Regions from separate parts of the Homo sapiens genome. Here all the other regions are linked to region 1. The links come from fine-mapping of genetic effects on gene expression. A gene starts in region 1. Each other region holds a variant in brackets. All regions are shown on one strand. Distances are from middle to middle.

Region 1 (6,550 bases):
CGGGCGGATCACCTGAGGTCAGGAGTTCGAGACCAGCCTGACCAACATGGAGAAACCCTGTCTCTAATAAAAATACAAAATTAGCCTGGCCGTGGTGATGCATGCCCGTAATCCCAGCTACTCAGGAGGATGAGGCAGGAGAATCGTTTGAACCCAGGAGGCGGAGGTTGCAGTGAGCTGAGATCGCGCCATTGCACTCCAGCCTGGGCAACAAGAGTGAAACTCCATCTCAAAGAAAGAGAAAGGGTCAAATTGTAGAGGTACTTGCTTTTTGTCTTAGAGTTTTCTTTTTGTATCATGGGCTTCTCTGGGATTCTCATGAAAGCCTTGTACCCTTCCTCCTCCTCCTCAAAACATAGTGCATTTATAAAGCTGCATAAAATTTCAGGGTTTCATAATTTCCCTTAAGTAGCATTTAGGAGCTCCTGCTATATGCAAATAGCACTGAAAGGATTTGAGTAGAAAAGTGGCATGTTCCAAACAGTGTTTAGAAGGATTCATTTGCCAGAGAGGATAATAACTGTTGGCAGTGAGGTCAATTGATAAATTATTGCAATATAATGCAAGTAGGAGCTCATATGGCCCTAGGCTAAGGTGGTGGCCCTAGGAATCCATCCATCGATTAAACTAACATTTATTGAGAGCTGACTTTGGGACAGGCCCTGTGCCCAGTGTTGAGGATGTGATAATGAATACGGCAAGACCACTGCCCTCAAGGAGCTCCAAGCTGGGCAGGATCAGAAAGAAAGGCAGGCAGCCACAGAGGCAGAGGGGATCAGGTCAGTGGCAGGTTCTCCTACTCAGAACTTCCCACCATCTGTGCCTTAGAATAAATTCAAGGCCCTTCACAAAACAGACACAACTCACCTTTCTGCTGTCATTTCCACTGGGGCCCCCACCACAACCACTTTGATCTCTCTCACAGACACACCCCCCGCAGGGCAGCTACCCTGGACTCTGGACTGTCTTCTGACTCTGCTTGCATTTTCTGGCCTCTGCCCTGTCACTGGTTTTCTCCCACCAGCTGTGCCTGCTCAAATTCCTACCCATTCTTTAAGACCCAGCTAAGATGTTGCCTTCCCTCAACATTTGTCAGAGTTTCCCCATTCATTCTGCCCTGTGTCACTGAGTGTGCCTGTATTAGGGTTCTCTAGAGGGACAGGACTAATAGGATACATGTATATATGAAAGGGAGTTTATTAAGGAGTATTGACTCATATGATCACAAGGTGAAGTCCCACAATAGGCTGTCTGCAAGCTGAGGAACAAAGAAGCCAGTCCGAGTTCCAAAACCTCAGAAGTAGGGAAGCCAACAGTGCAGCCTTCAGTCTGTGGCCGAAGGCCAGAGATCCCCTGACAAACCACTTTTATAGGTCTAAGAGTCCAAAAGCTGAAGAACCTGGAGTCCGATGTTCGAGGGTAGGAAGCATCTAGCACGGGAGAAAGGTGAAGGCCAGGAGACTCAGCCAGTCAAGTCCTTCCAACTTCTGCCTGCTTTTATTCTAGCCATGCTGGCAGCTGATGAGATGGTGCCCACCCAGACTGAGGGCTGGTCCGCCTCTCCCAGTCCACTGTTAATCTCCTTGGCAACACCCTCACAGACACACCCAGGAACAATACTTTGCATTCGTTCATATCAATCGAGCTGACAATATTATCCATCACAGTGCCTCAGTCTCCCCAGTATTCAGGGGAGGGCAGAGATGTTGTCTTTTTGTCCTTCTGTTCCATGGCGTGCCCAGATCCTGTGATGGCAGGTGCTCACTATATCTATGGAACTGAAAGGCCAGACCCTGGGGAGAGGACAGAGCAGGTTTGGGAGCCAACTGTGAAACCTTGGCAGTGGGAGTCAGGAAGAGCAACCTAGGTCTTTGCATCCTCATGCAACAAGGATGGAGGCCACCTCAAGTACACATTATGTGCTCAGCAAAGACGAGATTTAAAAGTATAAAACATTCACATTTGAGCAACTTAGGTCATTAAGAATTTGGCCTCTTTATAATGATAGCAGTGTCCACAGGAAGAGAGTGAGTGGGACATGAAATTTCTGGTTCTGCATGCAGACTTCTACATTTCTACCAGCTAATTATTATTATCATTAAATTATTAAGCAAAGAGCTTACTCGCAAAGGTCAACTTTTTATAAAGCATAAGTCATCCTTGGAAGTGTCGTTTGGTCATTCTAGTAATTCTTGCTTTTAATTCTTTAACAACTATGGGTAGAACTGCAGTGTACCATTATTCCACCTTTGTTTGCACTGTCAAAATACCCAAGACGTTGCCAAGGACGACTGAATTCTTAGGCTTGGCCGCAGCCACCCACAGGGCAGGTGCTCACTTCCTCCTCCGGGGTAGAAGAGATCATGGGTCCCTTTCCAGTCCAGGCTGGAATGGAGAAGTCGTCCCTGACCACAGTGCGCCAGGCAGAGGCCAAGGTTCTAAACTGATAGAACCCACCCACCAGGGCGGTGCCAAGTCCCAGTAAGGGCCGCATCTCCCCAGCTTGGCTGATGAAGAGGCGGGGACCGAACCCTCCAGTGCAGGAGCCTGTCTGGTGCCTGGCTCTCCCACCGATCCGCACGTACCTCTTCCTCGCGGGTCCTACCCCACGCAGGTATCTAGCGCCCAGCCCTGTTCATTTCCCACACCTGGCCCGCTCCGCCCCGGGGCCGAGGAGACGCACGTCTGATTGGCCGAGGGCGGCGGGGGCGGGGCCGGGGCGCCCCCAGAGGCCTAGACAGAGGTGCGGGCGGGGCAGGCCGCGCTCAGCAGGCGGGGCGGGAGCCGCGTGCGCCCGAGGACCCGGCCGGAAGGCTTGCGCCAGCTCAGGATGAGGACAGGCTGGGCGACCCCTCGCCGCCCGGCGGGGCTCCTCATGCTGCTCTTCTGGTTCTTCGATCTCGCGGAGCCCTCTGGCCGCGCAGGTAACCGCGGGCACGCCAGCCCCGCAGTCCGCTGGGTGCCTCGACGCCACAGCTCTGCTGCCTTCCAGCCTGGGGCAGGGCTGCGCCCCTGGGGCAGGTCACGGCTGCTTTGCTGTTGGGGCGGGGGGGCTCTGGAGCCGGAAGAGTGAGTCGCAGGGGAGGTCTGGCAGAGGAAGCGCCCCAGTGCCCTCGGGGGCCCGGAGGAGGGCGCGGTGGATGTGGGAGGACAGGGCCCTTCTGGTGCAGAGGGGACGCGGTGCACCGTAGAGTAGGCGCACGGAGGCTTTTTTGGCCGGGTGCGCTGCTCCATCGTCGCCTCTCTTATATAATGTTGCTGGAGTATGGGGTTCCCCATCTGCCCTCTTGCGTCCCGTCCCTCCCGTTCTCGCTTTTCCTTCGGCCCTTGGTCACCTTGGCCACAGGGCCAAGAGGAGCCTCCACCCACAGCGCCAAGGATTCCCCACGATTCCCGGATTTCACTGCGCCTACGGTGCGCATCAGGAAGGAAGTCAGGTTAAATAAACCATCTCCTCCGAAAGTGACCAAGACCAAGAGTCAGCTATGATGCCCTCACCCACCGCCTAGAGCAACAAACCTTTCTTCTCATTGGTTTATCAGCTCCAAATGACCCCGCTCCCCCAAGGCTGACAGCCTCACGGTGAAGGGCAGGTCGCCTGCTTGGGGACCTGCTGCCTCTCACTGCGGAAGCAGGACCAGAAACAGACAGCCTTCATTGATGTTCAGGGTAGTGCCAGCCCCACCACACCACACCCCTTGGCAGCAACCGGTTGCTTTTACTTTCTCTTTTTGCCTGGGCGAGGGGTGTGCAGAGAACTTTGTTTCTTGGTTGGACTGCATCATGGGCACTCAATGGGCCACCCTCCACCGGCCACTTCTGTTATCGTGCCTGTATGAGGAAGGAAAAGATTGTCCAGGCAGTTTGAAAAACATTAAATTGTTGGTGGCTCTTATTTTCTTTGCAGCTAAGCTAAGTTACCATCTGGTTTAGACTTCCTTCGGAGAGCGATGGGAAGAGATTTCTCAGAGTGTGAATGGCATCATCCTATCTACAGCAAGGACCTGGAAATGAACCCTGCTCTGAGTCACACTTCTCTATTCTCCTTTGACCCTGTGTGCTAGGAACTACCAAAAGAATCCTTTAAAATAAGATCCTTTATTGCCTTGATAATTTATTCTGCCTGCCCCACAATCCAAGGTGGAAAAGTTCACTGCAGCAACTAACTACAGTGAAAATGCACTAACTTTTCAATCACTAACCTCTTGGTTCCCATCGACATCTGCTTCAGTCCTGTTTTTATCTCCTTCACAAATTTCAGGATTTCCCTAATTCTTGCAATCTCTGCAATCACTGCCCTTTATCACTGACCCAAAGCAAAAAGCACCAGGTTTAACTCTGTTCCCCCTGTGCTAGGTCCCCACAGGTTTTGTTATCCTGTATCCTTCCTTACTCCTAGCAGCTACTCTGATCGATTTTCTCTCACCCTCAGAGCAGACTTGTGGCCTTGTTTGGGGAAGCACTGGAATTTTGAACCCCCAGCCATTTGGGTCAATTGTTTGGCAAGAGTGTCCGCTTCATGATGCTGGTGATGGCATGCACCTCGTCACATGTGCACGGCTAGGCTTGTGCAGGTGGCCTCTATTACCCAAACACTGAAGGAGCCCCTCTGTGTCCTTGGAGAGATGCCAGGTGCTTAGTTTACATTTTTGCCTGCTTGGAGAGCTAACAGCTTGAAGTAAACCAATCCATCAGGGACTCCTGAGGTTTTCACCAGCCAACACCACCCAATCGTGCGTGAAGACTTTCTGACTCCCTGGACATTGCCATGGACTCAACTGTCACTTCAGGACCTGTTTTTGAACTAACAAACCTAGACTTCTGATTCTCTCTTGCTGCACCTACCTGTACATTCCGAACACATGGTAGAGACTCTACAAAATGCTTAATATGTGATCTATGGACGGTTCCCCTGAAATTATAAATGCTGCCATCTTCATCCTTCTTGTTTTCCCAAGCTATTTCCCTATCCATTTGTCTGTGGTTATAAATGTCAATATCCAGCTTCTCTTTGGAATGTGTGAAGCTCTTTGGTCTAGGGACCAAAGGCAGGAATTATTTAGTGATCAGACAATAAGAAAACACTGAAAGAGATGATTTGCCTTTGATGGATGTAAAAATACTAAAAATTTATTTTCAATTTATGGTAATGCTACTTAGCCATTTTCTCTCAAACACCACTGGAGAATTTATATAACATGAAGCATATACAAAATGCATCTAGGGGGTAATGAGGCTTCTCTTCATCAACTTCTGCCTTTTAGATTTGCCCCAATATTGTACTTGGAGGTAAATATTAAAACTCCATTGAGGACTGGTATAAAGTTGTAAAGTGAACAAAACCCAGTAGAAAGCTATTGATAAAGAATCTATTTTATAAAATAAGTTTTATACAATAAAATCTACTCTGTAATTACCTTTTCAAAGTATATTTCTAAAATAGCTTATATGCCCTTCTGTACCAAATTTTCTAAATAAGGGATTATGTTCACACTTTCTCAGTCCTCCTTCCAGCTCTTCAACCTACTATCCCAATAAGGGTCGTAAGACTGAGGCAGTTTCAACAGCTCCTGCTAAGGTTAAAGAAAGATACGGGGAAGCATCATGAAAGGATAGGACTCTCCCTATCTAATGTATGTTTATACATACCTTATATATGGAGGCTAATAAGTTTCCTTTAAGTATATCAATAATTAAGATCTGTACTAAGTGACCACTATAAGTGTCACATTGAAATTGCATACTTGGTTCAAACAAGGGATTAGTCTGAGAAAAACATCTATATTCAGAGATGTAGCAGTTTGTTAGGAAGTTTGGCAGCTCCACTTTAACATAGCTACTCCACACCTCTCCTGTAGTGTTTTAGTGTTTCAATCTCGGACTCCTAACTCCTGCTTTTTCCACTGTATAAAGAAATGTAGCTAATCCATTGGATTCTACAAAAATTTTGAAAAATCCAGAACTGCAAACTGCAAAGGAAGGCAAAGCTGCTGCTTCCCCAGTTCACCTGTTTGGGATCCAGCACACAAAGCAGAATGCCCGGGAAAGACAGCAGCAAGACTACAGGGCAGGAGAGGGGCTGTTTCCAACAAGGGTGATGGGCACGTCTCCTGCAGGAGCAGACTTCTTTTTTCTTCTGTAATTTTTGATACTTTGGAATGCAAGATTTATTTTGGAGAGGCAAGAGAGAATACTTTGGAAAAGATGTAGATCAGAGATCTGAGTAGCTATTGAATTGTGGGAGAAGGCCATGAGAGAAAGTGTGAGTAGTAATCTTATAGCACATTTTCCTTTTTTGTTGACTGTCTTCCCAGCCTGTGTCCATCAAGTAGAAAATGGCAGAGGAATGTCAAAGAAGAAAGTGTGAGGGATGTGGCTGGGCACGGTATCTCATGCCTATAATCCCAGCATTTTGGGAGGCCGAAGTGGGTGGATCACCTGAGGTCAGGAGTTCGAGACCAGCTTGGCCAACATGGTGAAACCCCATCTCTACTAAAAATACAAAAATTACCCGGGTGTGGTGGCAGGCACCTGTAATCTCAGCTACTTG
Region 2 (6,550 bases), 95 kb after region 1:
TCCTAATGATGCCATAATAATCAATGTTCAACAAGTTTTGCATTAACAATTGAGCCCAGTGCAACAATGAGTAATCAGCAATATACCTTTGCCCAACCAACTATTTTCATAAGGTGGTAAAAACAAGAACTTACTAGTAACATTTCTTTTCAACAGCAGCATTGATGAGGAGTTGTGAGAAGTTTTATAGATTGTATAGATGAATTTGGCAAATGCATTTTGATCTGCAGCAGCTGGGAAACTTACCCAGGAGTCCAACTGCTGAACTGAAGACTTAGTACTCAAATTGGTGTGTTAGTGAGAAGAATGGAGGCAAAAGCCAATCAAATAACCGAAGTTCAAAAAGATCAAGTCTGGTTTCTAACAGAAGATAGAGAAGCAGCAGAAGGAACTAAGGGCCACTAAAGAGTCTCACAGTAGCCGCCATTCCTCTCTAATCACAGAGACCACAAATAAGGACTCTGCCAAGTGGAGATTTGGAGAAAAAAACAGAAAAAGCCTTTACTTACTGAAGGACATAAAGATCATACAGAATGCATTACAAAACAATAGTTTGGGTTGAGATTACTGACTGGTACCAGGTCAGATATTTGATTCAGATAAGCTGTACCGCACTAATACGACATTGACAATTTACTTTCCAGTTTTCATATGCTCTTCGGTTGGAATTAAAAACAGGTGTTAAAGGGCACAAGCTGCATTCCTCAGGCTGCTTCTGTTACTCAGCACAATTAAAAATCAATTTAAATGGAAACCAGGGGCATTTTTAAGAGCTAAGAAGCCACTCCTAGTCTTTTTTTGTTTGAGTGATGTTGCGGTGCTGATGTATTATGCTTTGTAAAACAAATTAGCTATTTTTAAAAAATAGTTCTTCTTATGACTAAGTAAAACTAGATTTATTTAGATTATCAAAATAAAAAGGAATCCAACGGGCTAGGCGCTGTGGGGTCACGCCTGTAATCCCAGCACTTTGGGAGCCTGAGGCAGGCAAATCACTTGAGGTGAGGAGTTTGAAACCAGCCTGGCCAGCATGGTGAAACTTCGTCTCTACTAAAAAAAATAATAATAAACAAAAAAAGGAATCCAAAGAAAGAAATAATTTTAATTATTATTTCAGAGTACTTTCAGGTCTGCCTGGCCTGTCTTTACTTCTTTTTCTAGTCTGTCTTTCTCATTGTTTCTACTTTAGTCCAAATCAGTCTTAGAAAGCTAAGGCACTTTCCACTTCTATCACCTAGGTTTTTTAAACGGTATTCCAAAAAGTTAATTAAAATATGTATTTATAGAGTGTGGGCTGTGGCTTTCTCTGGTATGAGTTAAATGCTACTCAACCACAAACGCAACAGTTCCAATCAGGGACATTGAAGTAGATTTTGAAAGGCAGTCTTTTTTTTCCATGCATTGTTACAACTGTGTCTAACATTTTTATAGCTAAAAAGCTGTCCCGTCTTACATATTCATCAAGATGTCCAGCAGCAAAAGAGAATGGGTCACGGTGGATCCAGTACAAGGGTCACTGTTACAAGTCTGATCAGGCATTGCACAGTTTTTCAGAGGCCAAAAAATTGTGTTCAAAACATGGTGAGTTAAAATTTGTTGATTTTCTTATGACTCAATAATTTTTAGAAATGTTTCTTAAGGATATAATTTGAAGCAATGATTGTATTTTTGAAAATATTTTTAAAGCACTTTCCATTTCTAATAGCGCTATAAACTAATTGCCCAGTGGTAGGGAAATGGTTAAGTATCTGATGACATAGGAACTCAATGAAATATTGGAATAGCCATTAAAAACGCCTGTAATCCCAGCACTTTGGGAGGCCAAGGCGGGCAGATCATGAGGTCAAGAGATCAAGACCATCCTGGCCAACATGGTGAAACCCTATCTCTACTAAAAATACAAAAATTAGCTGGGTGTGGTCGCACACACCTGTAGTCCCAGCTACTCGGGAGGCTGAGGCAGGAGAATCGCTTGAACCCAGGAGGCGGAGGTTGCAGTGAGCTGAGATGGCACCACTGCACTCCAGCCTGGGTGACAGAGCAAGACTCTATCTCAAAAAAAAATTATCAATGTTAATAATAAGTACATGGAAAATAATAAGTTGGAAGAAGTAGAATTTTAAAGTGGTGGCTGGGTGCGGTGGCTCACGCCTATAATCCCAGCACTTTGGGAGGCCGAGGTGGGAGGATCACTTGAGGTTAGCCATTAAAGACTAGCGTGACCAACATGGCGAGCCCTCGTCTCTACTAAAAATACAAAACTTAGCTGGGCGTGGTGGCGTGCACCTGTAATCCCAGCTACTTGGGAAGCTGAGGCAGGAGAATCACATGAACCAGGGAGGTGGAGGTTGCAGTGAGCCAAGACTGTGCCACTGCGCTCCAGCCTGGGCGACAGAGCAAGACTCCATCTCAAAAATAAATAAATAAATAAAATAAATAATAAAAATAATAATAAATGTAAAATAATAAAATAAAAGTGGCTAAGTGAACTGCTAAGTAAAAATACTGACAAATGATTGGAAACGGTTTTACCTATAGCTAGATATGCTTAGAAAAAGGAATTAAGAGGTAAAATTTTTGTAAAGTTAGCTAAGTAGTAAATAAAAATTATAGTTGTTCCATTGCTTAGTTATTAATACATAAGCTTAGCCTCACCAGGGTAACAAATCAAAGTAGTATGGTTGTCCATCCGTTCTGCAATAGGATTGGCCACATCCTCTGACCACCATAAAGGGCAGTGCTTTTTGCCTTCAGATTTAGCTATTTTAGAAAGAGTAGCAATGATTGGCTCTTTCCCGTGACAAATTTGATCCATAGTCAAACTGTAAAATGACTTCTAGGGGAACTACCTAGAGTATTTCAAAGACCAAAACTTGTTTACCTGCTTCCTTGGGTAGCAAATTAGCCAGGTAGATGGATGGCATTTATCTAATTTATTCTGATAACCGTTGTGGAGACACTTGACTGATTGAAAAATCTTGTAGTTACCGGGAACTTTTGTGTGGGAACCATTCGGTTTTATACCTGAATACACATGATGGAAACTGTTGTAAGATATATGTATGTTTTGAAAGTCATAAACCTTTTTCTCCTAAAGGAGAAAACAGAATGGTTTACTGTAAAACTAATATGTAGGTTAAGCACTTAAGACTTGGAGGCATGAGGGTCTGGGTTCAAATCCCAGTTCCCACATATCCTAGCTAAGTGGCATTGGGAGGTTACACAACTCTTTCTCTTTTCTCATCTGAACAGTCAGAGAGGTCTCAGGGGTAGGCAGTTCCAGGGCCAAAAAAATATTGCCAGATAAATATTTTGAAGAAACACAAAATTTCTTTATAC[G/A]TGTTTGGAAGTAATTTTTTTGAAGTACTTATAAAATTTTGACCTAAATACCAGTTTTTAAAAACTGTCTCTGTGTAAGGCTTGAATTTATCAATGATCTTGTTAATAATATATGTATTTTTCAAATGGCTAGTTGAGAATAAACTACTTCTCTAGTTTCCATAAAGCTAATTGAGAATGTGTTTTCTTTCAACAGATCACTCTGCAACTATCGTTTCCATAAAAGATGAAGATGAGAATAAATTTGTGAGCAGACTGATGAGGGAAAATAATAACATTACCATGAGAGTTTGGCTTGGATTATCTCAACATTCTGTTGGTAAGTGAAATAATTGTATGTGTAGTGTGCAAAGAGAGTTCTAACTCATCCTAAATAACAAGTCGTCCTTGCTAAAGAATGTTAAGTAGTGGCTAATTCAGATGCCTCTTCTGGATAAATAAGCTAGGTCGCTGGCTGTTCTGGATGGTTATAAATTTTGAATGAATCCATGAGTTAACTTAGCAATGACGGAAACCACTAATGACACAGAAAATCCTGTTAAATAAAGTGGAATCTTTCTAGAGGCTTATTTCTGGGATCCTTGGATCAACATCAGGACATTTTCTTCTCCACAGGAATGTCTGTGTCCCCACAAGGAACCCATGCCTGCCTTCTCTTAGAGTTCTAGTGCCTGTCACCGCATGGATTTGCAGCTTATAACTTCGTTATTCAGAAAGTTATCTTCTTGTTATTCCCTTCTCTCTAAGAATATTTTTACCACTGGTTAAAATTATGTCTTAATAGTAATCTTTAAAAACTGTCTTAGTGTTAGGTTGGTGTGAAAGTAATTGCAGCTTTTGCCATTACTTTTGCGCCAACCTATAAAATTGCAGATAATTGATTCAAAGAAAATTTGTGGAAGGATTTTTTAATACGAAATAGTAGATACAGGGTTTAGGTGAACTTGGAATTGGTAGAAATAAGAGTACAAATATGACAGAAGATAAGGTTTTTCACATTTTATGCAAAGTTGAATTTTAAATTATTAAAATGTGAATTTTAAAATGTTAAGTACTTGTCAAAAAATAAAAGGATTCCAAGTTGTCCATCTAAATGAATCCTAAATCGTGTTTACACTGTCACCACAAGGTGGTGCCACTTCAGCTGGAAAGCAAAAATGGAGTCCTGGTGGTGGTGTGGGAGAAAGGTGGGGATGGAGATTCCTGCACCCTTCCTCTTCCACCAGCATATCTTTAATGATATGACTTTTTACAATTAGAGTAGGGGAAGGATATGGGTCCTTAGAAATCTCTCCCTCACAAAATAAATGTGCAAGCATTCTGCACTTTAACGGAAACACCACATTCTCTATCTGTGTTGTCCAATAGAACTTTCTACAAAGACAGAAATGTTCTATATCTGCACTGTCCAATATAGTAGTCACTGGCCACATGTGGCTCTTGAGCACTTGAAATGTGACTAGTGCAACTGAAGAACTGATTTTATTTTTTTCATTTTTAATGCATTTTATTTTAACAAGTGGCTCTCATATTGGACAGCACAGTTCTGATGAGTTACATGAACCCATGCTTGTAACTTACTAGTTTAGTGGCAGTAGACATAGTTGTATTTAATTTCTTTCTTCAGACCAGTCTTGGAGTTGGTTAGATGGATCAGAAGTGACATTTGTCAAATGGGAAAATAAAAGTAAGAGTGGTGTTGGAAGATGTAGCATGTTGATAGCTTCAAATGAAACTTGGAAAAAAGTTGAATGTGAACATGGTTTTGGAAGAGTTGTCTGCAAAGTGCCTCTGGGTAAGTATGGAACCTGTCCTTAGGAGACTTTTTGCAGAACAGTCAGGAAATAAATGTACAATCCAATTATGTACAAAATTCTGTATTTAGTCTTGAAGTATTTAGTCCTTAAAGTATATCCAACTATCTTGATTAAGTCATAGAGATTTCCCCCTGAAAAATAGATTACAAGGGACGATAACTGCACAAGATGTCCAGGACTCCAGTCTACATTTTATATAATTCTTTCCTAAGAAAAACAGAAGTTGCCAGGGTATTAGGGAAGTAATTTCTTTTAAAATGTTCTTGAGATGTATTTTATTCTATAGTTTGATTATATAAAAGCTTAAAGGTCTATTTCTGCAGTTAATTTGCTTCCTTTCTTCCTAATCCCATAAAACTCATGGTTAATTTTAAAACAATGCAAAACTGGATTTAGTTATTGAAAACATTCAGGGTATCTATAAAAAATCATAATTTGAACTTACATTTCATTATGAATTGATACATAAAATTACCATTAAAATGTTATATTAACTTCATTTCTGGAGAAAGAGCTCCAAATTTTTCACAGTAACATTTTTAAAGATCTTGCATAAAACTTTTGCTTCTTGTATATAAATATTAAAGATAAAACCTCAATTCTAGGTAATCAGTATCCATGTATACACACACTGAGACAGTAAATAGAGTGTCTACTATATGCCATGCCCTGTTTTGCACACTGGGATGCACCTGAGAACAAGACAGATAAGGTACCTGTTCTCACAGAGATTACAATCTGGTGAAGAAAGATAAGTAAACAGGTCAATTTTTTAAAGAGAGGAAAATATCAAATAGTTATAAACTCTATGTGATGGAGACTCAGTGGATAGCTACTCTAGATTAGGAAACCAGGGAAGAAGCCTAGAAGCAGGAGACACCGAAGCTAAGATCTAAAAAATCAAGCCAAGCAAACTTCAAGGGAAAGGGCATAACAGACAGAGGTACCAGTTGGAGCAAAGAGCCTAAGGCAGAACAAGTTGGCTGAGCGCTCAGGGAAGAACTGAAAGGTAGGCAGGTGCTAGACATACAGAGCTTTGGAAGCAAGGCTTGAGTTCTGGTTTTATTCTGAGTGGAATGGAAAGCAACTGGAAGATTTGGGGGGTTGGGTGGGAGCAGAGTTAGGGTGTTGCAAATCAAAAGTTCTACGTTGGCCATTTTGAGTTATCCATAGAGGGACGAGATGTGTAGTGTGCATAGCAATGGTATTTAAAGTCATGGAACAGAGCGAATCCATCTGGGCAGTATGCAGATAAGGGTCTTGGAACAGCAGCTGCACTAAATGAACTCATCTGAGAGACTTAAATCATTTTGAAGCAAATAACACTTTATTTAGCCCCAGGTAAGTCAAAAACAAAAATTTATAGCTTTTAGCAATTTGCTATCAAAGTAGGA
Region 3 (6,550 bases), 330 kb after region 1:
TTCAGAGCTTGTTATTGATCTATTCAGGGATTCAACTTCTTCCTGGTTTAGTCTTGGGAGGGTGTATGTGTCCAGGAATTTATCCATTTCTTCTAGATTTTCTTGTTTATTTGCGTAGAGGTGTTTATAGTATTCTCTGATGGTAGTTTGTATTTCTGGGGGATCGGTGGTGATACCCCGTTTGTCATTTTTTTATTGCGTCTATTTGATTCTTCTCTCTTTTCTTCTTTATTAGTCTTGCTAGCGATCTATCAGTTTTGTTGATGTTTTCAAAAAACCAGCTGCTGGATTCATTGATTTTTTGAAGGGTTTTTTTGTGTCTCTGTCTCCTTCAGTTCTGCTCTGATCTTAGTTATTTGTTGTCTTCTGCTAGCTTTTGAATTTGTTTGCTGTTGCTTATGTAGTTCTTTTAATTGTGACGTTAGGGTGTCAATTTTAGATCTTTCCTGCTTTCTCATGGGCATTTAGTGCTATAAATTTCCCTCTACACACTGCTTTAAATGTGTCCCAGAGGTGGTGGTATGTTGTGTCTTTGTTCTCATTGGTTTCAAAGAACATCTTTATTTCTGCCTTCATCTCGTTATGTACCCAGTAGTCATTGAGGAGCAGGTTGTTCGGTTTCCATGTAGTTAAGCGGTTTTGAGTGAGTTTCTTAATCCTGATTCCTAGTTTGATTGCACTGTGGTCCTAGAGACAGTTGTTAAAATTTCTGTTCTTTTACATTTGCTGAGGAGTGCTTTACTTCCAACTGTGTGGTCAATTTTGGAATAAGTGCGATGTGTTGCTGAGAAGAATGTATATTCTGTTGATTTGGGGTGGAGAGTTCTGTAGATGTCTATTAGGTCTGCTTGGTGCAGAGCTGAGTTCAATTCCTGGATATCCTTGTTAACTTTTTGTCTCGTTGATCTGTCTAATGTAAGCATTTTTAAATCATTCCTTTGTTGAGGGACATTTTGTTTGTCTCTCATTTTGGGAAACATTGGGTTATACAGAAGTATTTTCTGTTCTGCATTATGGATCTCCAAAAAGGGCAAAGGGTGTGCACAATTTTCTGAACTTATTTTACCATAGAACTTTTCTTTTTTTTATGAACTGTGAATTTTTCAAAGAGTGTATTGTATCACTGATCCTCCATTAAAAGTATTTGAAGCTCTTGTCAATCTTCTTGTTTTACTTATAAAATTAAGAGTTAGTAGAAAATTGAAACCACAGTCTGTTTCTTGACTCTGTTGTTCAGTGTTGTTCCTTTTGCTTTGAATTTTTGTCTTCATTTAGTACTCTTTCCTGAATTCAAATAAGAAAGCTAAGCACTAGAGTTTTTATAAGGGAAAAGAACAGTTTTCATGTGTTCATACTAGGGAAAGTTAAAGTTTCTATGTCTTTAGGTTTTTCTTTTTGTCAGCAGGTGATATCTTGGTAGGTAATTAATGACAAGTGAAAACAAGTGAGGTTTCAGACAATTTGATGTAGCTTTCTTTAAATTACTTAAGTCCTCTAACATAAATGAACTAGTTCTTTTCTCATGTTGAATAATTCTTTTAATTACTTTAAGAATAGCTTGAAAAGCAGTATTATAAGTTTCAGTGTGTTTAGTAAGTTTCTTAGCTATTTCTTTAGCCTTTCTCCTTCCCATTAAGGTACCTACTTTTATTTCTTGTGGTGTATAAAAGGACTTTGGTCAATCTAAACTGAAGCAGATACGTTTTAAGATAGAGATATTCTTGAGTCTTGTCACATAATTGTTATTATTTTTCATCTTTCCCTAGGCTGTCAGGTTTCTCTAATCTTAGGGCACATTTAAAGTATTTTTCCTCCCTAACTGAACATTTGCTTGGATCAAGCAGATCATTTTGTGTAGTGAAAACAATCATTGGACCAAGAACTGGTATCCTCTTTTAGTTCTTTGTTTTTCAAATTTATTTAAAGAAATCAAAATAGTTTTTTTCTGATTATAAAGGTAATGCATACTTACAGAAAGTGTAACTAATGCAGAAATAATTTTTTAAAGACAGTTAAGTCACTTAAAATTCTACTATTTGGAGCTAACCTCTTTAACGTGGTAAATGCTCTTCCCTGTAAATATACACACACATTTATAAAAATAAGGTCATACTCTACTGGTTTGTAATTTTCCTTTTTAATCAATAATATGTTTTGGAACATGTTATTTTTTAAGTAAATTTGTTTTAGAGATAGGATCTCACTCTGTCACCTAGGATGGAGTGCAGTGGTGCCATCATGGCTCACTGCAGCCTTGACCCCCTGGGCTCAAGTGATCCTCCTGCCTCAGCCTTCCGAGTAGCTGGGACTAGAGGCATACACCACTGCACCCAACTAATTTTTAAAATTTTTTGGAAAAATGAGGGTCTCACTGTGTTGCCTAGGCTGCTCTTGAACTCCTGGGCTCAAGTAGTCTTCCAACCTTGTTCTCCCAAAGGGCTGAGAATACAGGTGTGAGCCACCGTGCCTGGCCACACTTTCCTTTTTTTTTTTTTTTTTTTTTTGAGACACAGTCTCACTCTGTAGCCCAGGCTGGAGTGCAGTGGCGTGATCTCGGCTCACCGCAACCTCTGCCTCCTGGGTTCAAGCGATTCTCCTGCCTCAGCCTCCCAAGTAGCTGGGACTACAGGCATTTGCCACCATGCCCGGCTAATTTTTTGTATTTTTAGTAGAGACGGGGTTTCACCATGTTAGCCAGGCTGGTCTCGAACTCCCGACCTCGTGATCCACCTGCCTCAGCCTCCCAAAGTACTGGGATTACAGGTGTGAGCCACCGTGCCTGGCCAAAACTTTTATACTTGTTACTGAACTGCCTTTCAGAGTGGTGGTATCAATTTACACTCACTCTAAAACTACCAATTCTGGGTTCTTTTTTTTTTTTTTTTAAACCTTTGATAATCTGATTGGTGCATGATGATAACTCAAATTTGTTCAAATTTGCATTTCTCTGCAAGATTTAGTTTATTTTCATGTATTGGTCAGCTTTATTTCTTTCTTATTTATTTGTTCGTTTTTATTTTTTGTAAAGACGGGGTCTCACTTTGTTGACCAGACTGATCTCTTTTATTTTTTTCTGTAAATTATCTGTCAACATCTTTTGACCACATCGATGTTATGCTGTTAGAGCTTTCCATATATTTATTTGTGTAATCCTCACAAGAATTCTTTTAGGTGGGTATATTTGTTCTACTTACAGTTGAGGAAACTGAGATGTGACTCAGTAACTTGCCCAAGATTACAAAGCTAGTGTATAGTAAATCTAGGAATCAAATTCAGATTTCCCTTACTGATTCTTAGTAAGAGCAGCTAGGTTTAGTTGACCTTTTAAATAACATTGTGGAGCTAATTTATATTCTTAGTAATGTTGTGAAGCTGTTTGTTTCTCAGAAATTCTTTAAGTTTCTAAATCTTAAAGGAAAGATATTTTACTAATGTATGTGAATTTTGGTCCTAGCATTTTAGGCTGCTGTTTGTAGAATTGAGCTTTCTGTCCTCCAAACTTCATGTAGTCTAAAATGAATGAAGGAAAACATATAGATTCTTAGATTTTCTAAGAATGTATTTTTGGAGATTTCATATTCAATCATGTTAAAATTTTTTTCTTTTGAAAA[T/C]GATATTCTTGAGTACATACTAGTATCACTTCAAGAGTTTTATAATCATGTTAATGGAGTACATATAATCATGCTTTTTGTGGATTTTGACCTATTATTCCAATTTCTAGTCTACCAACATTGTTTTGACTCTTCAAATTTTAGAAGTGAGTGATCTAGGGTCTCCATTCCTCACTTTACAGGTTAGGAATCTTAGAGAGGTTCAATAATTAAGTAGTGGCAAATACTGTGGTCCAACCTTAAAAGCAGTTGTAATTTCATTTGGATCATTTGGGTGTTGACTTCTTTGGAGGCAAAGGTTTGTTAAGCCTTCTCAACTTAATGAATTCCTCCATTTACCTTTATATCCCTAATATTATAACTCTTTATAACTCTGTGTCTAGAAGATGGTAAGCCCTTGATACATGCCTGTTGAATTGACTTCACTTCTATTTTTTATCCAGTATATTTTAACCTCTTTCAGGCTATCTACTCTCCCTTTCTGCATGGTTTTTTTTCTTTGGGAGGCAGAGTGTTGCTCTGTCGCCCAGGCTGGAGTAACCCTGGTATGAATGAGGGAAGGTCCAAAAGGGTCCTGAGCATAGAAGCATAGGACTCCCTGTGGAGTCATTCTCCATTTCCTGTTCCCCCAACTCCCATTACCCACTATCCTACTTTCTCTCTCTATGGATTTGCCTACGCTGGACATTGCATGTAAGTGGAATTATACAATATATGGTTTTTTGTGACTGGCTTCTGTCATGTAACATAATGCTTTCCAAGTTCATCCTTGTTGCAGCATGTATTACAACTTCATTTTATTTTCTTTTTTCTTTCTTTTCTTTTCTTTTTTTTTTGAGATGGAGTCTTGCTGTGTTACCCAGGCTGGAATGCAGTGGTAGGATCTTGGCTCACTGCAGCCTCCGCCTCCTGGATTCAAGCGATTCTCCTGCCTCAGCTTCTTGAGTAGCTGGGATTACAGGCGCATGCCACCATGCCCAGCTAATTTTTGTATTTTTAATAGAGATGGGGTTAGGCTGATCTCGAATTTTTGACCTCGTCATCCACCTGCCTCAGCCTCCCAAAGTGCCGGGATTACAGGCGTGAGCCACCGCGCCCAGCCTTCATTTCATTTTCTTACCAAATAATATTTCATTGTATGAGTGTGTCATATTTTGTTTATCCATTTATTATTTGATGAACACTTGAATAATTATGAATAATGTTGCTGTGAACATTCATGTACAAAACCTACATACGTGTAGGTTTTTTTATGGACATATGTTTGTAGTTCTCTTGTGCATATAACTAGGAATGGAATTGCTGGGTGACATAACTCTGTTTAACTTATTGAGAAACTGCCAAAATGTTTTCTAAAGTGGCTGCAATGTTTTGCAATCCCACTGGCATTGTGTAAGGGTTCCAGTTTCCCCACATCCTTACAAACACTTATTAGGTTTTTTTTGTTTTGTTTTGTTTGTTTGTTTGTTTTTTAGCCATTCTAGTGAGTGTGAAGTGCCATCTCGTGGTTTTGATTTGCATTTCTCTGATGACTAATGATATTGAGCATCTTTTCTTATGCTTATTGGCCATTTGTGTATCTTCTTTTGATAAAATATCTATTCAAACCCTTTGCCCATTTTAAAATTGTGCTGTGTGTGTGTGTGTGTGTGTGTGTGTGTGTATGTGTGTGTGTGTGTGTGTGTCTGTCAGTCTCTCCATCTGTCAGGGTCTGGGTCTCACTGTGTCATCCTGGGTAGAGTGCAGTGGCACATCATGGCTCACTGTAGGCTCAACCTCCCAGGCTCTAGGGATCCTCCCCCTCAGCCACCCAAGTAGCTGGGACTATGGGCACATGCCAACACACCCAGCCAATTTTTATATTTTTTTGTAGGTAAGGGATTTTGCCATGTTGCCCAGGCTGGTCTTGAACTCTTGGGCTCAAGCGATCTACCTACCTTGTCCTCCCAAAGTGCTAGGATTATGGATGTGAGCCACCTGTGCCTGGCTGTGTTGTTTTTAATTATTGAGTAGTTATAAGTGTTTTTTAAAAATATATTTTGGATACAACTGTCTTCAGATATATGATATACAAATATTTTCTTCCATTCTGTAGGTTGTCTTTTCACTTTCTTGATAGTGTCCTTTGAAGGACAAAAGTCCACGTTATCTATTTTTCCTTTGATTGCTTGTGCTTTTGATGCCATATCTAAGTAAACATTGCCTAATCCAAGGTCAAGAAGATTTACGCCTTTATTTTCTTCCAGGAATTTTACGTTTTTACCTCTTACGTTTGGGTCATTGATTCATTCTTAGTTCCTTTTTGTGTATGGTGTGAGGTAGGGGTCCAGTTTCCTTCTTTTACATGTGGATATTCAGTTGTTCCAGCACCTTTTGTTGAAAAGATATTCTTTCCCCATTGAATTGTTTTGGCACCCTTGTCAAATATCATTTGACTGTACATGTAAGCAAGGGTTTGTTTCTTGAATCTCAATTCTATTCTGTTGATCTAAAGGTCTAGCATTAAGCCATGCTACTCTGCTTTGATTACTATAGCTTTGTAGTAAATTGAAATCAGAAAGTGTGAGCCTTCCAACTTTATTCTTCCTTTTCAAGATTATTTTGGCAATCCTGGCCAAAATAATCCAAAATTTAACTTTTCATGCTATTTTATCTGAAATTACTTTCTTCAAGGTCACTTATAATCTTTGGCCCAATTCAGTTATACCCCACCCCTAATTTTTTAGTCCTTTTTCAGTTTTCTAGAAAACTATCTCGTTTCCCACTTTCTGGTCCTCTTTTTGATATTTTGCCCTCATAATATTTCTTTTTATTTTCCAGCAGGTAGTGAGCACTTCTCATCTTCTAAGCACCCTGTTAATCTCTGGAAAAGAAAATTCCAATTAAACACAATCCTCATTCTCATGTTGCTTAGGATAAATAATATTAAGAGAGAGGCA
Region 4 (6,550 bases), 130 kb after region 1:
CAGGATTTCGTCATGTTGGCCAGGCTGGTCTCAAACTCCTGACCTCAGGTGATCCACCCGCCTCAGCCTCCCAAAGTGCTGGGATTACAGGCATGAGCCACCACGCCCAGCCCCTACAACTATTTTCCATCCCTTAAAAAAAATTATGTAAAGTATACTGAGACATAAACATAATTTCAATGACATAAATCATATTAGAGGCTGAGAGCCAAGACATGTCCCTGTAACCTTATTAGCTTGTATGAACTGTAAGATCAAAGTTTATTGTCCAGCTCTAATATATATAGAAAGTTAAGCAACTATTTATTATTTTTATGTACCTAGTGATTTTCACTGATTCTGGAATATGCTGACTTTTTTTCTCTTTAAAATAATTTCAGGAGCGGACATGATAAGCATACATAATGAAGAAGAAAATGCTTTTATACTGGATACTTTGAAAAAGCAATGGAAAGGCCCAGATGATATCCTACTAGGCATGTTTTATGACACAGATGGTAAGTGATATTTACCTCGTGGGACGTGACTTTGTTGTTCTTTTTTTAATGTAGCAAAACTGATGGCTTTTCAATTCTCTGGTTCAAGTTGATGATTCCTGTGGCCTCCAGGTGTTAAATTTTCAGTGTGCACCTATGATCATACCACAGCTTGTATCTGCATAGCTCAATGAGTTACACAGATGAAAGCCACAGTTGATTCTTGTCTGGATTAAAATGTGGCTCTAAGGCTCAGTATTTTTGTAATATAGCATGATCATAAAGGTAAGTATTAGTGTCTGCAACTAATAGGCTAAGGATAGACTAAATTATCACGGTTCTATTATATAAACATATTTATCATTACTGTAGACAAAGTACATATGTACAAATATAAAAGTACATATGTAAACATTTTCAAATGAAATGAAATTACTAAGGTTACTATTAATATTTAACTATTTTTCTTGACTTTTTTCCCATGAGAATATTATACATGTATATATTTTTGCGAAAATTGGATCATCTTCAGAAACCTCTTAAATCGATAGCTTTTGATGATTTGGCTGTACACAGGATATATTCCTCCTTCTAATTTTAATCCTACAATCAGAAGTTTAGACCAGACATACCTTAGTAACTTTCCACCTTTAATCCTACACCCTTTTTGGCTTGAACTCCTTTTAAAACTGTCATAATGTTGAAAATATTCCTTAATTGACAGATGCGAGTTTCAAGTGGTTTGATAATTCAAATATGACATTTGATAAGTGGACAGACCAAGATGATGATGAGGATTTAGTTGACACCTGTGCTTTTCTGCACATCAAGACAGGTGAATGGAAAAAAGGAAATTGTGAAGTTTCTTCTGTGGAAGGAACACTATGCAAAACAGCTAGTAAGTATGACCGAAGGTGTTTTTCCATTCTAGAAGGGGCAGAGAAAGTAGGACTGGTTTTAAAATAATTTTGAGATAAGTGTGCCTCAATAAATAGAATAAGGCTAGGCACAGTGGCTCACGCCTGCAATCCCAGCATTATGGTAAACTGAGGCACTGGATTGCTTGAGCGCAGGAGTTGAAGACCAGCTTGAGCAACATGGCGAAAACTCATCTCTACAAAAAATACAAAAATCAGCTGGGCATGGTGGCGTGCACCTGCGGTCCGAAATACATGGGAGCCTGAGGTGGGAGGATCAATTGAGCCTGGGAGGTTGAGGCTGCAGTAAGCCTGGGCAACAGAGCAACACTCTGTCTCAAAAAGAAAAAAAAAAATAGAGGGAATAAGACTTCAGAATATATTAATAGGATGGTTTGCTCTTAAGTCTCTTGGAACTCAAATTGTAATTCTCTTACATTTAGGAGGTAAGGCCAGATCACATGAAATAGGCATACTTTTATTCTGTCTGCTTAGTGTTTCCAAGAGGTCAAAAATTTCTTGTTCAGAGGAATTATTATAATCTCTTTGCATGTGATTTGAGTGAGCAGAAGTGGTGAAGAGTAATCATGTATAATTCCAGAATTCTCGTGTTACTTTACAAGGAATTAGATTCTCCATAAGAACATCCTTTGTTTAGGCAAACAAAAACTACATCATAGTTTATAATTTATTTGGAATTAAAATGTTTTCTTCTGACCCGTCAGAAGGTTTTTTTTTTTTTTTTTTTTTTTTTTGCGATGCAGTCTCTCTCTGTCGCCCAGGCTGGAGTGCGGTGGCGCGATCTTGGCTCACTGCAACCTCTGCCTCCTGGCTTCAAGCGATTCTCCTGCCTCAGCCTCCCAAGTAGCTGGGACTACAGGCACCCGCCACCATGCCCGGCTAATTTTTGTATTTTTTAGTAGAGATGGGGTTTCACCATATTGGCCAGGCTGGTCTCGAACTCCTGACCTTGTGATCTGCCCACCTCAGCCTCCCAAAGTGTTAGGATTACAGACGTGAGCCACTGTGCCCGGCCCAGAAGGTTTTTTAATGAACAGAAGTTATCCTGGCCCACAACAGTATTTTGATGTTATTTGTTAAAACACTACACAGTTTGTTATTCTAAGTTTTAGAAAGTAACTGTTTTCTCATTAAAGAAAATTAAATTTTCAAAATGTGGGCTGGGTACAGTGGCTCATGCTTGTAATCCCAGCACTTTTTGAGGCTGAGGCAGCCTGGGTCAACATAGCAAGACCACCATCTCTACAAAAAAAGTTTTTAGTTTTTTTAATGTTTCAAAATATGAATTTAGGGTGCTTAAAACATGATATAAACAACCATTTCCCCATTTTGCATCCTCAGTATTTTCCCCTTCTACTTCAACTGTAAACCAAAACTCCACATCCTGCTTTATTTCCTTTCTTTACATATGGAAGTATGTACATTTCTTTACTTGCTACAGCAGGATCCTTGACTACTGTTAGTTTTACAGTGATTATCAAAATGTTCGTCATAGTTTTATGGTAGCAGTATTCAACTTCAAATATTTGTTTTTTAAAAAATTGGTTCTTTTCAGGTTCTGCACCTCAGGGTGCCATTACATAAA[C/T]AAAGTTTTTAATTAAACTATAACTTCAAAACATCAGAAATAGTGAGTACATCCATACTAAGGTAGTTAGGGTCACAGTTGTTTAATTTTATGACATTTGTTTTCTAGACTCTCCAACCAGAATCCTCTTTTTTCCTTTACCTCATTATTGTCTTTTCCTCAAGATCCCGTATTCTTTTCCACCAACCAAGCTAATGCATGTTGTTAGCCCTCTACATCTTTCTTTAAAAACTAAGTTCAAAATAGACAACAGAGACAACTAATGAGGCAAAGAAATATGGATTTTAGGCTATGAATATATTGATATTAAGCTACTAATAAAAGGGTTTATTTTTAATGATTGTGAACATGTTTAAAGTCAATCCTATAATAAAGCATAATTAAATTCTAATTTTTATTTTCTTTTGTATTTTAGTCCCATACAAAAGGAAATATTTATCAGGTAAGTAATGATTTGGTCTTTAAATTTTTCCCACAATTAAAAATATATCAAAATTCTGGCATATTAAAATACATTACAGATCCCTTTTTAAAATTATGTAATATAAAGTAGAACAATTTTTATAAGAATGTAGAAAGGTCTCTTAGTAATAAGACTCAACATTTTAAATATATTCTACAATATGTAGTTTTGTCTGGCTTCTTTTACTCGGGAATATTTTTTTAGATTCATCTGTGTTGTGCACATTCACTGAATTTTTTCCCTAAGTGTCATAATACTTTATAAATATATCATATATTGTCCATTCTCTTGTTTATGGATATTTGGATCACTTCTAGTTTTAAACTAATTTGAATAGAACTGCCTATGAACATTCTCCCACATCTTCTTTTGGACCTATGTTCTCATTTTCTTTGAGTATATTCTAGAAAGTAGAAAGCTGGGTCATAGGGCAAGTATATATATTTAGATTTATTAGAAACCACCAAATAATTTTTCAAAATGCTTGAATCATGTTACTACTGGCAGTGCGTCCAAGTTCCATTTGCTCCATGTTCATCCCATGATGGTATTGTCAATTTATTTTTAGCCATTCAGATCAGGTGTGTAGTGATCTTCTTGTGGCTTTAATTTTCATTTACCTGATAATGATGTTGAGCACCTTTCAGATGATTATTTATTTGTATATCTTTTGTGAAAAGGCTTTTACCCATTTGCGGAGTGCAGTGGTGTGAGCTTGACTCACCGCAGTCTTGACCTCCTGGGCTCAAGCGATACTTCCACCTCAGCCTCCCAAGTAGCTGGGACTACAGGTGTGGGCCGCCATGCCCAGCTAACTTTTTTTGTACAGATGGAGTTTCACCATGTTACCCAGGCTAGTCTCAAACTCCTGGGTTCAAAGGATCCACCCGCCTCAGCCTCCCAAAGTGCTGAGATTACAGGCGTTGGGCCGCCATGCCCAGCCACCCATATTTTTTTTGAGTTGCCTATATTTTTGGTAGGAATTTTTAAAACAAATTTTGTTTCTTTAAATTTGGATATGGGCCGGGCTAAATAATACAAAACTTAGCCGGGCACGGTGGCGGGCGCCTGTAATCCCGGCTACTTGGGAGGTTGAGGCAGGGAGAATTGCATGAATTTGGGAGGCGGAGGTTGCAGTGAGCCGAGATCACGCCACTGCCCTCCAGCCTCGGCGACAGAGTGACTCCATCTCACAAAAAAAAAAAAAAAAAAAAAAAAATTGGATGTGAGTCCTTTGCCAGTTTTCTATTTGGGGGTTACTACGATAGAACTATGACAGAGGAGGAGAAAAGAAGTGTTGGGTTTGTGTGTATACAGGAATTACATCCTCATTAATCTATAGGAAGAAGACAATAAATAACAAGCATTAGTGTGGATATGCAGCAATTGGAACTCTTGTGGTAGGAATGTAAAATGGTGCAGCCTCTGTGAAAAACAGTGTGGTGGTTCTTCAAAAAAAATTATTAAAAGAATTACCGTATGATCCAGCAATTCTGAGTATGTATCCCAAATAACTGAAAGCAAGGACTCTTTAATATCCGTACACCCATCTGTTTGATATTTGTGTATCTATGTTCATAGCATCATTTGCCATAGCCAAAAGGTGGAAGCAACCCAAGTGTCCACTGATGAAGGGATAAACAAAATGTAATCTGCACATACAACTGAGTATCATTTAGCCTTAAAAGAGAAGAAAATTCTGACACGTGCTACAACATGCATAAACCTGAAGGACATTAGGCTAAACAAAATAAGCCAGGCACAGGCCGGGCGCAGTGGCTCACGCCTGTAATCCCAGCACTTTGGGAGGCTGAGACCGGTGGATCACCTGAGGTCAGGAGTTTGAGACCAGCCTGGCCAACATGGCGAAATCCCGACTCTACTTTAAAAAAAAAAAAAAAAAAGTTGAAACCCGGAGGCAGAGGCTGCAGTGAGCCGGGATCACTCCACTGCACTCCAGCCTGGGCGAGACAGAGCAAGCCTCCATCTAAAACAAAACAAAACAAAACCACCACAAAAAAAAAAGAAAAATAAGCCAGTCATAAAAGGCCAAATTCTGTATAATTCTTACCTATAGTATGAGGTACCTAAAGTAGTCAACCTCACCAAGAAACTCTTTGCCAAGGGTTAGGTCAGGAAGAAATGGGAGTTTAATAGGTACAGTTTCCATTTTACAAAATGAGTTGTTCTGTGAATGGATGGTGGTGATGTAGCACAACGAAGTGAATGTACTTAATGCTACTGCACACCTAAGATGGTATTTGTTACATGTATTTCTTTAAATTACATTTTTAAAAAATCAAGCAGCGGAAGCATGTTATTTAGACATGGAGACAGATAAATAGCTGAAGCAACAGTAGTAGTTAACTTTAAGGAATGGATGTTCAGGTGAGTAGTGGAGCAGGAGCACAGTATTTTCACTACGTATCTTCTAGAACTATGACTTTTAAGCTACGTAAATGTATTACTTTGGAAAAAATAAAGATACACATAAGTTGGAACATTTAGAAAAAAATAGGTCTGTGGCTTCAAAAACGAATAGTTGAAAGATCTGGCAACATATGGTCTTCAGACTACAAGAAAAGTAATCTCTGAATTCATTACATGTATGCATGTATATATGTGCATGTAAATCTGTATTAAATATGTGTATGTAATTTAGTGAGTAAACACTATGTGTCAGGCTTTCTCCTAAAGTTAGACATTGAAGACAGAGCAATGAACAAAACAAAAGCCTCTGCTCTCAAGCATACATTCTAGTGGGAAGGGTAAAACAAAACTATGTGAGATGGTGACACATCCTATAGGGAAAACAGGCAGATAAGGATGAATTCCAGTGCAAGAAGGGAGGTGTTGCACTTTATTTTTATTTTTAGTACAGTGGCCAGGGAAGGCCTCATTTAATAAGGCCATGATTTTGCATAATGAAGACCTAAAGTCAAAGTGAAAGCCTGTCATGTAGATAGGGATTAGGCTTAGTCTGACTTTAAGGAGTAAAACAGTAGAGAACATGGAGTTGAAGCAGCAAGGAAACAACCCAACAGTTAAGTGTAGCTGCCATCTTGGCAAACAGGGAGTTCCCCTTCAT
Region 5 (5,802 bases), 50 kb after region 1:
ACCTTAGAAATGGCAAATTAGCCACCAGAGGAAATAGTATGAAGGGCATGTGGAGGTGTATATATATTTTTTTTAATATATATTTTTTAACAAGAGAGAAAGGAATTAACCCACTTAAAAATATAAATCAATTAATCGAACAAATCTAAATAATTCCACCTCCATTATCCCCATGCAGAAATAAAATAAAAAACTAAACTCCTGTTCTCAGCCTGTCCCAATCACTTGAAGAAATCAATGATTGCTTGCTCCAGGGTTTAAATGTTATGTTCACCCTTTTTTGACCGTACTGTACCTAACTTTCTAAGTTACGATGTGATGCATTCAGCTGGTTGGATATTTTCTTGGTTATTAGAGCAGCCTAAGTTTACTCAACTTGTATTCATCTGTATTTTCTGGTTTTCTTAAAGAAGTTTTCCTCTTATGTATTCTAAATCACCATGCCTCTTCTCTGGCTCTTGCCTTTTTATTACTTGGTTCTAATTAATCCTCTCTTCCCTAAAAGAGATATTTTGACAACCTGTAAATTTGAAGTTACCTCAACCACAGTGGATATTTGTACTTTTTAAATATTATTTTTTGAGAAAACTGTGTCAAAAATAAGGCTCATAAAAGTGTTTTTAGGAAAATTACCTATGATGCCATTACCCAGACATAGCAATTTTTATTGTATTTCTTGATACCTTGTACACACATACATGTTTGCAATCTTGTATAAAAAACACCTTGCATCCTACTTTTCTCACTAATTTAAAGATATTTAAAGGTTAGCCATAGCTTTCCCTCCCCCACACACAAATAATCAGAAGTCTTTGACAAGATTACAGACAAGAAACTATGTACATTTTGAACTGACTTGCAACATTATTGTTGGAAATTATCCAATACGAATAGAACTGGCTCAGAGAGAGACTAAAGATGCTGGCTATTCAGGCAGTCCTCTGAGTCAGGTCTTCTGATGCCTGCCTGAGGCTCACATGCCACACCAAAATTAAGACCAGCTATTTTACTCTGTAATTTCTAAGATTAAGCAAATGATGTCTTTGACTTGAAGCCAGTGTGATCTGTGGCCAGAATGAAAAGGGGGAGGAACGCAAATAGGCTCCCATGGGGAACTTCCCTGTGCCTGGTCCTGTGCTGGCCACTTCCTCCAGGGCATCACACGTGACCTTCACTCTCTGTGAGTCAGGTAGCCATCTAGTTTTCATAGAGGAGAAAATCAAGGCTCAGAGAGGGTTAAGCCACTCATCCGAAATACCATGGCAGCAAAATGCATAAGGGCATTTGCACACTGACCCGCCCAGCTTCCAACCCGGAATTCTGTGTAGCATGCCATTATTTACTCCGTTTCCATCTGGGAATCCTGAGTCACTTTTAATTATTTTCCTCTCAGTTTTGTCTCATCTTCTCAAAAGGTTCAACACTGGAGCATTGTACATTGTTTCCAAGGATATCTTGGAAGACAATGAACTCTATCAACCTAAGTTTACAGAACAGTTAACCTGTTTCATTAGATGCAGAAGTGGTTCCTGAATAACTTCCCTTTTCAATGACCGTTATTTTGGTTCCTACTTCTTATGCTTCTGTGTAACACATACAATATCATTATTTACTTGTTTTTACTTTCTAATTCTTAGCTATATTTTATCTGTCTTACTTCTTTTGTGACCTCTGTGACACAAGGTAAAAGACTGCTAGAAATACTTCATTAATATTTAACGTATCTGCCTTTTGGATTTCTCCTGAAGCAGGTTTAGCATCGGCCCTACAAAATACAACTAAAGTGATCAAAACGTGAAGTGGGTTGGCCAGAAATGGACAAGACTCAACAATACTGCAAGTCCTTTCGAGCTACATTAAAGGCCGTACTTATAGTATACCCTGATCTGTCATGGAATACTAATGCCACTTGCTTTCTTCCTCATACAGGCCGTACTCCAAAAACACCAGACTGGTACAATCCAGGTGAGTTAAGAAAACTGAAATTTAACCAAAGCTGCTTTTACCTTGTCACTAATGCATTTAGTTAATTATTTAAGTGCCAGCTTCTTCTCTATACATCTTCAAGTGAGACAAAATTTCTCCAGGCAAGGAAGGTGAGCGACTGGTATGGGATGAGGTGATGAGGGTGACTTTTTCCTTCCCTGTGAGTGTAGGGGAGTGGCAGAGTCACTGGCTCAGGAATCTCTTGTTCCTTGTAGTCAGTACTGCCCCAGCCAGAGAGGGCCGGTAATCTGAATTACTATTTATAGTTTTGAACATTAACTCATGCTTAGAGGACACAGTTTGCTTTGCATAGTCATAATTCTAATCTTTTTCTTCTTCTTCTTTAGACCGTGCTGGAATTCATGGACCTCCACTTATAATTGAAGGAAGTGAATATTGGTTTGTTGCTGATCTTCACCTAAACTATGAAGAAGCCGTCCTGTACTGTGCCAGCAATCACAGCTTTCTTGCAACTATAACATCTTTTGTGGGACTAAAAGCCATCAAAAACAAAATAGCAAATGTAATTTAAAAGAATATATTTTAAATATATTTCTTATTTTTGTATTTATTCCATTTAAAAATATTACAAAAATTTTGCCAAAATCTACAAAAGTTAAATTTTTCTTTAATGTAAAATCTGCCTCACAGCATCCAAATTTGTTTCATGTTAGAAAAATTAAGTAGAATTGCTTATGTTTTAAAATATACAAGATTAATAATAAATGTCACTTTATAAGGTAAACATCAGTAGATAATATAGATCATTCTAATTTCCTGTCACATTTTTTACTAAAAGTCAACTTTATAGTTAACTTGAGTTTCTGTTTCTACTAATAAGTAACTTTGCAAAATAATTTTTGGGAAGAAAAATAATTTCTGTATTTTTAAATTTATAATCAATTGCAATAGGATACTGTATGCCCACTTAAAGTATTAGTCTAATTAATATATGCCCATAATTACAGCTACCATATTTCCTGTACCCACAATAGGATCTGTAAATATACTGAGAAATTTCAACTACTCTTTGGCAAAAGGTTCTAGTTTGTATAATTTTGAAATCTAAGTAAGGAATGTCTGGAAATTTTAGTGGTTAGTGATTATAGTAAGACAATGTATTCGAATCAAAACCCTCAAGAAAGCTCAGCACATATAAGGATGGATGTTTGGCTTG[T/C]TTTTCAGATATCTGGTGATGGACAGAAGTGGTGGATAAGAATTAGCGAGTGGCCAATAGATGATCATTTTACATAGTAGGTGACATCATTGATTCTACCTTTGTAAAGTTATCACTTAAAAGAAGCAGTTCCTTTTACTAAATGGATTTCTATTTATAAGTAGTTTGAATATTAATCCATAAACTGCCTAAATTAGAGAAACCAAGCCCTTTTGCATGTTAGCATCAAGAAAAAAGGGGTATAGAGTAATGGTATTAACATTAAATTTAGAAATAAAATAACTTACAGTAAAAAGAAAAAAATGGAACACCTAATTACATTACGAGTTGTCAAATCTGTCATTTTCTTTTAGCTCACGATATCCATGGCACCGCTTTCCTGTGACATTTGGAGAGGAATGCTTGTACATGTCTGCCAAGACTTGGCTTATCGGTAAAGTTAATTCTAAATCCTTTAATGCTGATTATGTAATATGTGAAGTTCAGGTTCAGTTTCTAGCTTAATCTTGTTTTCCTTTTAATTATATGTTTGGTAATTTCATCTTATTCTGATTTATTATTAGCAACAATAGCTCAAATTCCCAATGCAAATAAAGGTACTTTTCACTGTGAATATTTTAACTTCCTTTATCCTAAAGCAGTTACTTAGTAATAAACTTACCACTTTCCTAACTGATAAGTGTCTAAGCAAATTTTCAAAGATAAGCAGGCAGCAGTTCTAAAATATAGTTTAAGTCCCCTCCCCCTGATTACATTGCCCCTTCAACTCTCTTCCTACCTCCTGCCTTCACCCTGGGATGGTATGGTAGTCACACAAAATGTGTGCTGTTTCATAGACAGTATTGGTATGCTGTAACCTACTGATAAAAATAATCATAGAAGACAGAAATGGCTAGAGAAGAAAGGGAATATATTTTAAGCATTTAGGAAAGATTGATTTCAAGAGCCTTTCTTTACTACTGGGTTGCTTTTAAAATGTGCTGACTTGGCCGGGCACGGTGGCTCATGCCTGTAATCCCAGCACTTTGGGAGGCTGAGGCAGGCAAATCACTTGAGGCAAGGAGTTCGAGACCAGCCTGGCCAACGTGGTGAATCCCTGTCTCTACTAAAAATACAAAAATTAGCCAGGTGTGGCAGCATGCACCTGCAATCCCAGCTTCTTGGGAGGCTGAAGTATGAGAATCACTTGAATCTGGGAGGTGGAGGATGCAGTAAGCCAACATTGCACCACTGCACTCCAGCCCCGGGCAACAGAGCGAGACTCTGTCTCAAAAAAAAAAAAACAAAAAAAAACACACAAAACAAAATAAAAATGTACTGACTGAAAAATTCTCACCATAGTAATCCTGGCTTTTCATTTCTCAGACTTAGGTAAACCAACAGACTGTAGTACCAAGTTGCCCTTCATCTGTGAAAAATATAATGTTTCTTCGTTAGAGAAATACAGCCCAGATTCTGCAGCTAAAGTGCAATGTTCTGAGCAATGGATTCCTTTTCAGAATAAGGTAAAAAGAGAATTGCTACATTATGCAACAATGATTGCTTCCATGCTGGTTTTATAGCCTATGGCAGAATGGCAACCCATTAGTGACAACATCACTGAAATAGACTCTGCATGTTTCAGGATCCCACCTGGCCCTCTGTGTTGCCAGAAACCGTGGATGATATCAAGAATTAACTCTCAAGTTGGTCATGCCTACAGGTCTTTTAAAGTGCAGCATTTCTATTTTGTTGCTACTAACACTTAAATTGCTTAAGTTGATCTGTTGAGGGATTGGGATGCATTGAATAGTCAGGACTGTCTCTATGGCCTTATAGGAAACTGACTTAATTTCTGGCTTGTGTTTTCTTTTTCCCCTCAAGGAGAGCATCCAAGCAGCATCTGCCAATCAAATTAGACCAGCATTTCACAAACTACTTTTTGGGGACTACACACATGCTACAAAATGTTAATCATTGATCTTGCCTCCAAATGGGGGTTTTATGATTAAATAGGTTTGAGAAATGCTGCATTCTGTATCTGCCTCTTTGAGATGCATAATCCATGTTGGTATATGTATGTATTAGGAAATGCATTTGGCTTCTGAAAAGAGGTTGCTACAGTATGAGAAAAGATTTATTCTGTCACATTAAAGACATTTGAAGATAAGCAGGTTTGTGTGGAAACACCATGAAGTCTTCAAAATCAGGCTTCTTTTGGTTTTGCTCTGCCATCCTTAATATAAGGCTTCCGAGCTTAAATTCAGGGTGTTCTCTCTAGGGTCTTTTCTAGAAGTTACCCGATGAGTTTGTCCACATTGGGTAGCTTGGCTCATTGGCCACTCCAGTCTATAAGAAAGCTGAAAAAAAAATTTTTTTTGTAAGATATTTCAAGGAACACAATTTGGGACATACCACTCTACACTAAAGTGATCATAATGTGAAAAAGGGAAAAAAGAGATGTGTCTGACAGCTGAAAGCATCTGTAGTAAAGCTAGGGGTACATTTTAACTTTTTAAAATTAGGACAATCTTTTTAATTCCTCAAGGTAATAGTACTGTGTTAATTTGCATAGCTGATATAAATTTGAATTAAAATATCCTGCCAAGAAAGAGATGAATTTTTCAACAGTGTTTCTTGACATAAGGAGATGATGATTA

What was found. PIP is the estimated chance that this variant, and not a neighbour inherited with it, causes the effect.
Region 2: its variant is the best candidate, but not a certain one, in a credible set for the expression of LY75 in whole blood (INTERVAL, PIP 0.61).
Region 3: its variant is the best candidate, but not a certain one, in a credible set for the expression of LY75 in whole blood (INTERVAL, PIP 0.60).
Region 4: its variant is the best candidate, but not a certain one, in a credible set for the expression of LY75 in whole blood (INTERVAL, PIP 0.71).
Region 5: its variant is the best candidate, but not a certain one, in a credible set for the expression of LY75 in cerebellar hemisphere (GTEx, PIP 0.78).

The regions. Positions count from the first base shown.
Region 1 is chr2:159,900,963-159,907,512 of GRCh38, reverse strand. It overlaps LY75 (lymphocyte antigen 75), which reads left to right and starts at 2,757. Exons shown (of 35, transcript NM_002349.4): 1 at 2,757-2,924. The coding sequence starts at 2,831. It overlaps LY75-CD302 (LY75-CD302 readthrough), which reads left to right and starts at 2,757. Exons shown (of 38, transcript NM_001198760.1): 1 at 2,757-2,924. The coding sequence starts at 2,831. RefSeq lists silencers at 2,555-2,796, 2,566-3,025 and enhancers at 3,206-3,285, 3,426-3,475, 3,696-3,745, 3,796-3,845.
Region 2 is chr2:159,805,557-159,812,106 of GRCh38, reverse strand. LY75-CD302 (LY75-CD302 readthrough) reads left to right here. Exons shown (of 38, transcript NM_001198760.1): 32 at 1,432-1,581; 33 at 3,536-3,658. LY75 (lymphocyte antigen 75) reads left to right here. Exons shown (of 35, transcript NM_002349.4): 32 at 1,432-1,581; 33 at 3,536-3,658; 34 at 4,967-5,134. Among named protein-coding and RNA genes, the nearest start is that of CD302, 11 kb to the right of the region's middle. The variant G/A (reference allele first, on the strand shown) is at 3,340.
Region 3 is chr2:159,572,867-159,579,416 of GRCh38, reverse strand. The region is part of intron 1 of BAZ2B (bromodomain adjacent to zinc finger domain 2B); the gene reads left to right. Among named protein-coding and RNA genes, the nearest start is that of BAZ2B-AS1, 39 kb to the left of the region's middle. The variant T/C (reference allele first, on the strand shown) is at 3,612.
Region 4 is chr2:159,774,829-159,781,378 of GRCh38, reverse strand. LY75-CD302 (LY75-CD302 readthrough) reads left to right here. Exons shown (of 38, transcript NM_001198760.1): 35 at 381-497; 36 at 1,201-1,374; 37 at 3,415-3,441. CD302 (CD302 molecule) reads left to right here. Exons shown (of 6, transcript NM_014880.5): 3 at 381-497; 4 at 1,201-1,374; 5 at 3,415-3,441. Among named protein-coding and RNA genes, the nearest start is that of CD302, 20 kb to the left of the region's middle. The variant C/T (reference allele first, on the strand shown) is at 3,000.
Region 5 is chr2:159,851,067-159,856,868 of GRCh38, reverse strand. LY75-CD302 (LY75-CD302 readthrough) reads left to right here. Exons shown (of 38, transcript NM_001198760.1): 17 at 1,930-1,965; 18 at 2,334-2,509; 19 at 3,172-3,239; 20 at 3,517-3,596; 21 at 4,529-4,668. LY75 (lymphocyte antigen 75) reads left to right here. Exons shown (of 35, transcript NM_002349.4): 17 at 1,930-1,965; 18 at 2,334-2,509; 19 at 3,172-3,239; 20 at 3,517-3,596; 21 at 4,529-4,668. Among named protein-coding and RNA genes, the nearest start is that of LY75, 51 kb to the left of the region's middle. The variant T/C (reference allele first, on the strand shown) is at 3,164.